Linked DNA regions of Homo sapiens: region 1 is linked to region 2. The links come from fine-mapping of genetic effects on gene expression. A gene starts in region 2. The other region holds a variant in brackets. All regions are shown on one strand. Distances are between the middles of the regions. Region 1 overlaps ZC2HC1A (zinc finger C2HC-type containing 1A). Region 2 holds the start of IL7 (interleukin 7).

Evidence for each region. PIP is the estimated chance that this variant, and not a neighbour inherited with it, causes the effect. A credible set is the group of variants that fine-mapping cannot tell apart.
Region 1: its variant is the best candidate, but not a certain one, in a credible set for the expression of IL7 in cerebral cortex (GTEx, PIP 0.57).

Annotation. Positions count from the first base shown.
Region 1 is chr8:78,709,031-78,714,417 of GRCh38, forward strand. The region is part of intron 7 of ZC2HC1A (zinc finger C2HC-type containing 1A); the gene reads left to right. It also overlaps a transcript of IL7 not described here. Among named protein-coding and RNA genes, the nearest start is that of ZC2HC1A, 46 kb to the left of the region's middle. The variant A/G (reference allele first, on the strand shown) is at 2,352.
Region 2 is chr8:78,802,706-78,808,092 of GRCh38, forward strand. IL7 (interleukin 7) reads right to left here and starts at 2,758. Exons shown (of 6, transcript NM_000880.4): 1 at 2,208-2,758. The coding sequence starts at 2,217. It overlaps MITA1 (metabolism induced tumor activator 1), which reads left to right and starts at 1,767. Exons shown (of 3, transcript XR_002956715.2): 1 at 1,767-2,990.

The DNA of each region.
Region 1 (5,387 bases), 94 kb before region 2:
AATATTTCCCCATTTGAATTGTTCCCTAGAGTTTACACAGTTGTACCTTATTACCAGTTTAAATGGATATCTCAGTTAATAATTTTCAATAGTGAAACTATCAAATATCAGAGATTTACTTCCTTTTAGTTACTATGAAAAGCACATTTACTTTGGAGAGCAACTGTAATACACCTAAAATTAGAGCAACCAAAGGCATGTATGGAGCATTTTTTAATTTAAAAAATTGCATTTTGTTTCTCATACCTTATTTAAAACATTAAGAAGTAAATGTCTTTAGTTTTTGAGTACATTTTTATATGAATAGGAAACATGCTGTTTTCATAATCCAGTCTTTTGATGTGTGTGAAATGAATTTGTGTGGAGCGTTATGTGAATTTTTATGAACTTATCTTTTATTGTTGATCTAGAAATGCTTGTGATAACCTAGAATTCCAGACCTCGGTTTCTTATGTGGATAACAATGATTGGAGATTTTGGATAGGGAGCTAACTTTGCTGTGGAATTGAGATACTAATTATTTGTGTAGGATTGATAAATTTAGGATCAAAAGTAGAGGTATGACACATTTCAAAACTGCCTTAGAGCAGGGGGGTGTTCAATCTTTTGGCTTCCCTGGGCCACACTGAAAGAAGAATTGTCTTGGACCACATATAAAATACACGAACGCTAATGATAGCTGATGAACTAAAAAAAAAAAAAAAAATTTCATAATGTTTTAAGAAAGTTTACGAATTTGTATAGGGCCCCATTCAAAGCCATCTTGGGTGGCATGTGGCCTGTGAGCTGCTGGTTGGACAAGATTGCCTTATAGCATCATAACAACAGAGGTGTGCAAAGATACAAAATACCATCCGGTAAATTCTTTTCCCAATATTATTTCAGAAATCATCTTTTTGTTATATCTCAATCTACAGTACTTGCTACACTCCTACAAGGTACCTAGTAAGCCACACTAAAATTACTTATTTCGTAAGTGAATTCACTCTCCTGGTATCAACAGTAAATGACTTTTCCTATGTTAAAGTTTATTTCAAATCAGGGATAGGTTGATATCGTCACCATACTCATTCAGCTATGAGTATTTTGAAGGCCTGTGAAAGTATTATATGTATAAAATCTTGATTGTTATTGAGATTTATAGATTTTGTTTTTGATAGCCTAATGGCAACTTAGAATGTAAGTTATTAAGTGATTATAGCCTAAAAATAGCATTCATTAACTTTTAGCCTAAGTAACATTTGAGTTTTGAATGTACATATATATATATGCACACATATAAATCAAGTTGAATGTTATAATACAAGTATGGTTAAAATCATTACTGGAACCTGTCCTTCAATTAGGTTTTCAAAATCTGAAAATATTGGCAATCTTTTTATATATGTAATGTTTCCATTGGATAATTACCTTTAGGTTTTTATTATATTTTACACATCTTTCTTGAACTGAACTTTGTTGTATCACATGTAGGATTTGACCATTTCTTATCATATAAGAGGAATATGTTTTTAAAATATAGTCAAAAATTTTCTAAATTTTAATTTCAGGAAGTTTTTTCTGAGAAAGAAAAATTTTAATCCTTATTTCCAGAATCATGTAAGATAACCACTGTTTGGAAGAAAAATGTTTTGATAATTAAGGATTAGAATAAAATCTGAATGTTTAAAATTCCAATAGATGGGTTTCTTTGTACTTTAACAAATTAAAAACAAATTTTAATTTAAAATATTTTAGAAATTTTACTTAATACATTTATTTAATGAAGGCTGCTTTTAAGAACTTTAAATCCTCACGTAAACACCACCACCTGCAAAGTATTAATATCAACTTTTTCAACAAAATGCCTGCTATGTATAAGCTACTGAAAGAAGACAAAAATTAATAAAATGTGTCCCTCCTCTTAGATATCTATAATCTAGGAAAATGAACACATTCTTTTCAGACACTAAACTCCATAAGAACAGGTATCAGATCTATCTTATTTACCACCACATCCTGAGAATGGAGCACAGTGCCTGACACATAATAGATGCTCATAATAGATGCTCAGGGTTTATAGTCAGTGAATAAGTAAAGAAATGAGTGAGCAAATATCTCTTAAAAAGAACAGACTTTTAAAGTTAACAAGCAGTGATGTGTTATTCAGTAGCAAATAAGATTGTTTCCTAATGTCATAATTCAATTTTCCCTGCTTCCTACTATGACTAGATGTTGGTTGGTGATAGTTTATATGATTCAGTTATTTGGTTGGTTGATTTAAAACAGTGAAATATCCTACAAACCTGCAGTTTGTCCTGCTATCCTCTAGATGGAGAGCCTTTATAATTTTGGTCAAAATGTGTGTGTGT[A/G]TATATAGGCCCCTTACCATTATTATATGTGATTTTTAGAATTGTCATCCATGTTTTTTTTTTCCATGCCGAGTCCTGTTTTACTTTGGATACATTTCAGAAATAAAGTCACTTTTTTGTTAGAAGTCAGTGGAGTTAGAAAGTCAAATGGAGTACATGTTATTTAGTCAATTCCTTATTTTTGGAATTTTAAAAAGCACGGAAATAAATAATATGAAGAGTAGAGAAAGTTTCCATGAATTCTGGGAGGAAGAAAAATCATTTGTGAATAACAGCATTCAGTTCACTTATAGCTTCATGATTTTTTTTTTGAAATAGTTGTTCTTCCTAAGTTTCTTCATTGATTCCATTGCCCTGCTGTGTATAATTTGACATTTGTTTGGATGTGTAGGGTAGCCTGTGTAGTCAGAATTTTCAGACCTAATAATGGACATTGTATGAACTCTCTGAGGATTCTTTTGGACATTAGTTCTTACCTTGACAGTCAGATAAAATTAAGGACTTGGGGAGTAGATATCTGATGAACCAGAATAATGTCTTTTAAAAAAACTTTATATAAAGAAGCAGTAGCAATCTCCTTATGGGTACACCTTTATATATTTTAATAGTAATATGGACAAGTTAGGCCCTCCACTTCGAACGGGAAGACTTGTGCAAAGGTTGTATGACAGTGATACAAAATCAGACAGTGCCATCAAAAGACATGAGTTATTACCTATTTACAAGTAAGTATTTGTAACTCAGTTTGGTTAATATTTTTCAGATATTTCCTTAAAAGCTTTATATAATGGAATAACATAACTTTTACTGTCCTATACTTAAAAAAATCTGTTGAATAATTTCTAAGCCAAAATGTGTCAAATAATCTAGGATTTAAAACATTTTGATTTTTAGTAAGCATTTCTGTTGTACTAAATAAAACTTTTTAGGTTATACATTTTATTCCATTAAATATTAATTTTTTGAGGTTTCAAATTGCAGTCACATTTAATAATTATTTTTATGAAGTTTTTTTTAGTAGTAATTAGGGTTTTTTGTAATAGTAGTTTTAAAAAGCAGAGTTTGAGAAAAATAATGTCTTGTACAGTATATAATATTGTTAGATTATCTCTTAGATAAGCCGATGGTGAACTATTATAAAAAGCCCAGAAAAAGAAAAGATTTTAGGAAACTTTCAATCCAAGGGTCCTTAGTCTTTTTGTTAGATGGTTGTAAATTCTGCCTACAACCGGGAAAAAGTATGACACTGCCAAAGAGTCAAGCTCGAGGAAGAGTATGACACAGCCAGTTCTGACCTGGCTGGCTGAAAAGAGTGTGTGGCAATGGCAGTTACTTTGAAACTCTACAGCATGAGTCTTCAAGGTTTACTAATTTGGGTCTCAATTCTAGCCCACATTTTAAATATGAAATTAGGGCCTAAAAATTAATATACCTATTAATGGTGGAAAATATTAAGCAGAGTAACTTAGTTAACTTTTAAACCAACACCTACTACAACAGTCTGCTCAGTATGTATGTATGAAAAGTAATAATAAATTTAACTAGATAAACAAAGGTAGGAGAAGTCTTTAAGATACTAGCAGCAGCCATTTGCTATTTTTAAGTAGTGATAAATCCTAGCAGGAAGAGTTTGTGCTGTGAGCCGTTTTTCATTTTGCTGATTCTACTGTCAGAACTCTCTGATGCAGATCTCACAGTAACAGTGACTAGCAGTAAGATGGATTAAGTACAATTCCAAAATTAAACCTTCTTTAATTATTCATATGAGCTGTTAACAGGTAGATTCTAGATACAGAGTAAGAGTAATGCTTTGCAGATTCTGAACAGAAAGAAAAATTTGTGGACTGTGTAAGACTGGGGCAAGATGTTTTAAGTGATCAAGGCCATTCTAGATGTTACTAAAAATAAATGACAGGTATTTAATATTGGTAGCTATTAATGATGATAATCTCTTATATTTTCCTCTAAATATAAACATTTTGAACAACCTCAAGTTACCGATATGGTGACATTATGTGTATATATTCATGGGTGTGTTTGTATTGTTTGTATATCTCATGCACTTAAGACGATTCTATAGCCAAAAAAAAAAAAAGTGTTCTTCCTATTTAAAGTCCATTCTTTGACAATGATTTCCTAAAGATTGAATTTCTAGAAAAAGACTCTAGTAGTTCTACAACATCCCCAAAGAGGCTATACACAAGAGTAGAGTAAACCTCATGAATGGACTTGGAGTGAGCATTTGAAGAGGTGCAGGGCATTCCATTCATGCACCAAAGTGATTCTTTGCTTGTTGAAGTTTAGAAGTAATTTAAAGAAGTAACTATGCAAAGCAACCACTTTGAATGACAGCATTGTGTATTGAATATGAGTTCTGTAATACAGCCCACTTAAGTTCAAGTACTACTCTGGCCACGTAGTAGCCTCACAATTTATATAATCTCTTTGAACATGCTTCCACTTTAAAATGGGAATAATATCTTCTGAGATTTGGGGGACATTAAATAAGGCATGTGTAGTATCTGGCTTCATAATTGTCATGTAGTGGCTGTTTGAAAAATAGTGGATGTTGTTATTACCTGCATGTACTTTGGAAGCAGCTATTTACAATTTTAGGGTACTCTCTCCTACTTTGCCATATAAGTAGAGTAAGAAAAATTTCAACTAAAGTTTAAGAACCTCTAATCTGGAGGTATTTTTTAAAGTATTCTGCTGTTCATATAACACTGTTCACCTGTGAAATTTAAAGATTTGATTAAAGCTCTATAGAGAGGGAGGGAACTATGCTTCAATGAACATCTAAATCCTAGCTTTGGAACACACTAGCAGGGTCACCTTGGGTAAGTTACTTAGGGGCTCTTTACCTCATTTGTCTTATCTGTAAATGGAGTTATGAACGCTACCTATTTCATAGGATTATTAGGATAAATAAATTTCTATGGGCAAAATAATTAGAATTGTACTTGACATGGAGTAAGCACTATTATATAAATGTTAACTTATAGTGGCAACAACAGTAGTAATAGTATTAGCATC
Region 2 (5,387 bases):
TACAGGCTTGAGCCACCATGCCTAGTCAGAAAATTCCTGTACATAATATAGATATGGAATTCAAATCCAAGACTGTCACATTGAAGAGTCTAGAACCTCAGCTTTTAGGCACTGAACTACATTGCTTCCTTAAAAAATAACCATATATGTGTAGTCAAGGGGATTGCATAAAAACCCATCTTCCTGTGCATGAACCTCACTAAGGTACTTCCTGGCCAAACTGTGAAACTGCATCATATGCTTTTATTTCAGAAAAAGAGACTAAATATTTGTTCTTGTTACAGTAGGTTATGTGTCAGGGTTAAAAGCAGAAAAAAAAGTCACATAGATGAGTGTGAATATGACACGTAAGTTCGTTCTATGAAATGGCCTTTTCCATTTTTTAAAAAAATATTCAAACACTAACGTGATGCAGTTTGTAATTCTCCTTTATGCTTGTTCAGGGTTTCTAATATTAGTTCTCTATTATTATTTTTTGAGACAGGGCATCACTCTGTTGCCTAGGCTGGAGGACAGTGGTAAGATCATGGCTCACGGCAGCCTTGACTTCCAGGCTCAAGCAATCCTCCTGCCTCAGCCTCCCGAGTAGAGTCTATTTTTATTGCTATTCAACTTTTTGGTCCTCAAATATGATGAAATTACCCAAACCAGATAAGACAGTTGGAGACCACATAGTAGATCCTCAACTACTTCAACTCTCAAAAGAAATGGCAAAGACAAAGGGTAAAGAGTAACATTATGTGCACTCTTAATGGAACAAGCTTCTAGTGAAATTTCTTGAAACAAACTTCAGGAAGCCATGCATTATAATCATTATTATTAGAATTTTAATATTTTGTCTGCTAATGAAAACTTATAGCCCATGATTCATATAACTGTGCTTCAGGAAGTAAAGGCTTTTTCTGAAAAATGCACACGCTAGCTTCCTTTTCTCAGTTTACCTTTCTACTTTAGAGCAGAGGTGTTGCAAGGATTAGAACCAAGGGTGATCCAGAAGAAGAAACTGCAGAACTATGGGCATTGCAAGGAAAATAGGGTTGTGCTCAATTTTTAGTTTTGTATTAAGCTCCGGGAGGACATTCCTTAGAAGTCCTCCATAATTACGTTGGCTATTCTTTCCGCTCTCTCTATCTTTGTTTTGTTACTGAGCTGGCACTCCTTGGTTGTGTCAATTCTTGATTCTTTACCCACGAGAGTGGAAAGAAGTCTTGATCTAACGGAGTAGCCATCAAAAGAAAGAGCAGTCAGTTTCCTATTCCCGCACCCTCCCCCCAGCTGTCTTCTTGCTTGAGGAAGTACTTACTGTAAAGCATTCCAATTTTCCTAAGCAGATCTTTTCCCCTCACAATCCTTTTTCCTCTTTTTTAATTCCAGTAAGTTTTTTGGCTCTTTCATTGGTCATATATGACTGCCATCCGAATCCAACCCTCCTGAATTCTGTCCCTGTCCATTCTAAATCCGTATTCTGCACAAATAAGATATATTAGGTCTCAATACTGGTCTGGAAGTTAGAGTCACGCCTATTTCATTCTGCCTCCATCAAGAAGCGCCCGTAGGAAAAAATAACAACAAAAACAAAAACAAAAACAAAAAAACCCAGAAGCTGGCCTTCCTCAGCGCCAGCCCCAGGACTGGTTTCCCAGCAATAGGCGCAAGGTACAGCCCTTGCCGGAAACTCCCAGTCTTACTCAGGGGGGAAAAATGGGGTTTTCCGGAGACCTGTTCCCCTAGGGTTTAAAAGCGCGTCCCGTGGGAGCTTCGCTTTCACTTCTCTAGGGAGTTCTGAGCTGCAAGAGCCCAGCTACTCGCCGAACCCGGGCCGCCTGCGTGAGTAACTTGGGGCGGCCAGGAGCACGGGAAGGGCGCCAGACAGAGAGCCTTTGGCTGCTTCTGAGACCGGCTGTGGGCTGCCACCGCTGAGCGGCGCGGAGGCTGCAGCGTTCCCTCTCAGGACAGAAAGCAGGCGTTGGGGACTGTTACTCGCAGCCTGCCAGGGGCAGCAGCCGCCCCAGGTTCAAGTGGCTATGTGCCAGGATACTCAGGCGCGGCTGTTGGCTGCCCATGGGAGAGCCAGTGCTCTCCGCAGGTCCAAAGTGCAAGGCCGGGCTATTCCCGGACTTGCCTAGGAGCAGGGGCCCCCAGCGCGTCTGGGATTGCCCCGGCGCGTCGGGCGCGCGAACTTGTGCGCAAGGGAGAAGAGCGCTTACCATGGAACATGGTCTGCGGGAGGCGGGCGTAGTCATGATGACCGCAACTGGAGCAGGAGCAAGCTCTCACCGCCCATAGTCACTCCCAGGACCCTGGTCTTCCGCGGAGTTGCCGAGTCTGTGTTGGGCAGGGTGATCTCTGCAGCTGGTTCCTCTTACCCACGCCGCGACTGCAGTTTCATCCATCCCAAGGGGGGCGGCACACACTACGGCGTGGCTCTGCGCTTTGCCTTTTCCATAACTTCCGTAGGATCCGCCAGCAGTGTACTTTCAGTTTCTACTTTGCGCTTGGTCTGCAGGTTCAATCTTTGGGATCATCAGCATGGAATCTTCATTATCCCCTCTCTCCTGGGCACCTGCTTCCCGCGCACCTGGATGAGGACCAGAGGAATTCGCGAATTTCCGAATCACCGCAGGAAAAACCAGCTGGCCTGAATCAAAGCAATTCTGGGTAAAAGACTTCCCAGATGATCTCTCAACGCCTTGGCAACGCTTGGCGACTGGGAGCTAGAACCATGAGTTGTTAATGTGTGCACGGAAGCCACAAGTGTGCAGGACGCAAGCTGGGTTATTGGAAGCGGACGACACCAAGGAGGCGTTGCCGCGGATGTGGTGGACGATGCCAAGTCGTCTTTTAAAAAAGGAAGTGAAGAATGATTAAGAGGGTCACGCCCTCTACCACTCCAACCTCTCTAATCAGTCTCTTTCTGCTCCGTCTGCTGTACATGCACCTGCTCAGGTGAGACCTCAAGGAAAAATAATCCTGTGGGTCCACCTAATCTGGTAAGTGTTGTATTTGGAAAATCAAACCCCAAATTAAACGCAGGACGTGGAAACTGACGATAATATTTAACTATGACTTCCACGTGCACATTTATCTGAATTGGCTAATAAATCAAACTATTCGTCTTGAATGCATGCCACTGAAATGTTAACTTTTTCCTGGGCTTGAATTATGTAGCTTATTTGCTACATTAGTTTGGTTTCTGCTATTCTGCAGAAACCCTGCTTAGATGAAGGTGGATAATGTAAACCAGTAACAACAGCGATAATAATAACGACTATCATTTATCTAGCATTTGCTCTCTGCCAGTTTTGTGCTAAGCATTTTATGTATATCATCTCATGCAAAACTTTGTGTGAGGTAGACCATTTTCTTATCTGCACTTTACAGATGTGGGGACTGAGACTTCCTTAAGTAACTTTCCAAATTTCACTTAGCTAACTGAGCTTAGACACAGACTTGCTGCATTTGGGCTGTAGAAACTCCTGCTTGGAACTCCTGTGAATAAAGTAATAATGTGCACACTGATGCCGGGAGGGAGATGACAGTACGTGTGTGGCTTTGCCCCAGTGTGGGGACTTCAGGAAAGTTTCCTGGAGTCTGTGACTTCTAAACTGACACTTGAAGAGGAATGAACTTGGGGCTGGTAAGGAGTATGTCACATTCTGCTATAGCGTGAACAAGGAAGAGGAGGGAAGGAGAAAGGAAAAAAAAGGATGGCAATGAACTAGGGAGAACAGAGTTGCTCAAGCCTGAAACTTGGGTCTCTGATTCCTTTTTTGGTCTCATTTCCCACATCAAATCCATAGACAAGTCCTGTCTGCCCCACCTCCAAAATTAACCCTAAGGTGACTATAGAGACTGTCTAAGGGATCTTCCAGCTTTCACTTTTGCCCACAACCCCTTCATTCTTCTCAGAGCAGCAGGATATCTGATTCTATTTTGTGCCCCACCTTCTGGTCACTTCCCACTGGGTACCAGGCCCTCAGTGCCCTGGTGATCTGGGCCCCACTGCCCTCTCTGACGTTTCGTGGTACCACATCACTATCCTCCAGCCACAATGGCCTTTCTCTTCCTGCCCAGCGTCCACTTACTATGGTCTTTAGCCCATGGCTGGCATTCAGTAAGTACTGGGGGGTGACAGAGTAAGAGAGAACAGGTGAGTGGGAATGCATCAGTGAATATGTGTGAAAGAGAAAGTTCATGAAAGCAGAAGGAAATAGAATGAAAGAGGAAGCGAAGGGGGTAAGCAAATGGAAAAGAGAGACAGAATGGAGTGAGAAAAGCCACATATTTCCATTTGACTGGAACCTAGAGTGGGAGGTGGGGAGGAGGACAGACATGACACTGGAGTGAGTTTTAAAAATGATTTCTATAATGAAACACGCCTAGGTTGGGGATTTATTTATTTATTTATTTATTTATTTATTTATTTATTTATTTTAAATCCCTGACAGCAGCATTGAAGTATGTAACTGTTCATAGCCTGCACCTTTTTCTTTTTTTAACTTTCCAGGAACAAAGTAAAAGAGCATCCATCAATACTTTGCACAAAAGGAAATCCGTCTTCCTTTTATCACAATCACCATAAATCCAGGTAGAATAAGGGTTGTACATATCTGAACTTTTGGGAAGCATGAAAGGAAGTTATTCAGAGCTGCAGGAAAGGCAATGTAAATGTTACACTGGATTCTGCCCCCAACTATAAAGAATCTTTCTGAAGAGAATATTCATAAAGCTTTGGGAATTGTTAGGGTTATATGAAATGGGCACATTCTAACAACATCAAGTAATGATTTTTTTTTTCTGTCTGTGAGATAATTAATACCATTTAGAAAAAAATCCAAAATGAAGTCTTAAATTAGCTTTTGATATTTTGATAAACTGAATATTATTTTTTATAAGATAGATGGACAAGAATAAAATGTTTATAAATTTTTAAAATGCTAATGTTTTATGATTAAAGAAATGGAATGGTTACTATTATGTTTGCTCATAGACTCAATGAACTGGACAGAAAAGCCTTTAAGGGAGAAAATAGTAAATACATTTTATGAATTATGGTAAATAAATTTTAAAAGAGAAGACAACATTCTCAGAATGATCAATATAATGTATTAGAAGAAGTTCAAATAAAATTATATGATGTCAATTTAAAGAGAAAATTATTGAACATTAACCAATATCTTTTAATGTTCTACAGTCTTCAGTCAGAATAGTCAATTATTGTAAACCAGAAAATATTTTTTGATTAATATCTGAACTATTTTTACCCAACTTAATATGACTACTTTTTGTAGTCTGTGATATGAATTCTATCTATCATTCTATCTATGGGTAGTATGAAGTTCTTTTTATTTAACTTTCCAGTAATAACATTCAACATATTTAAAACA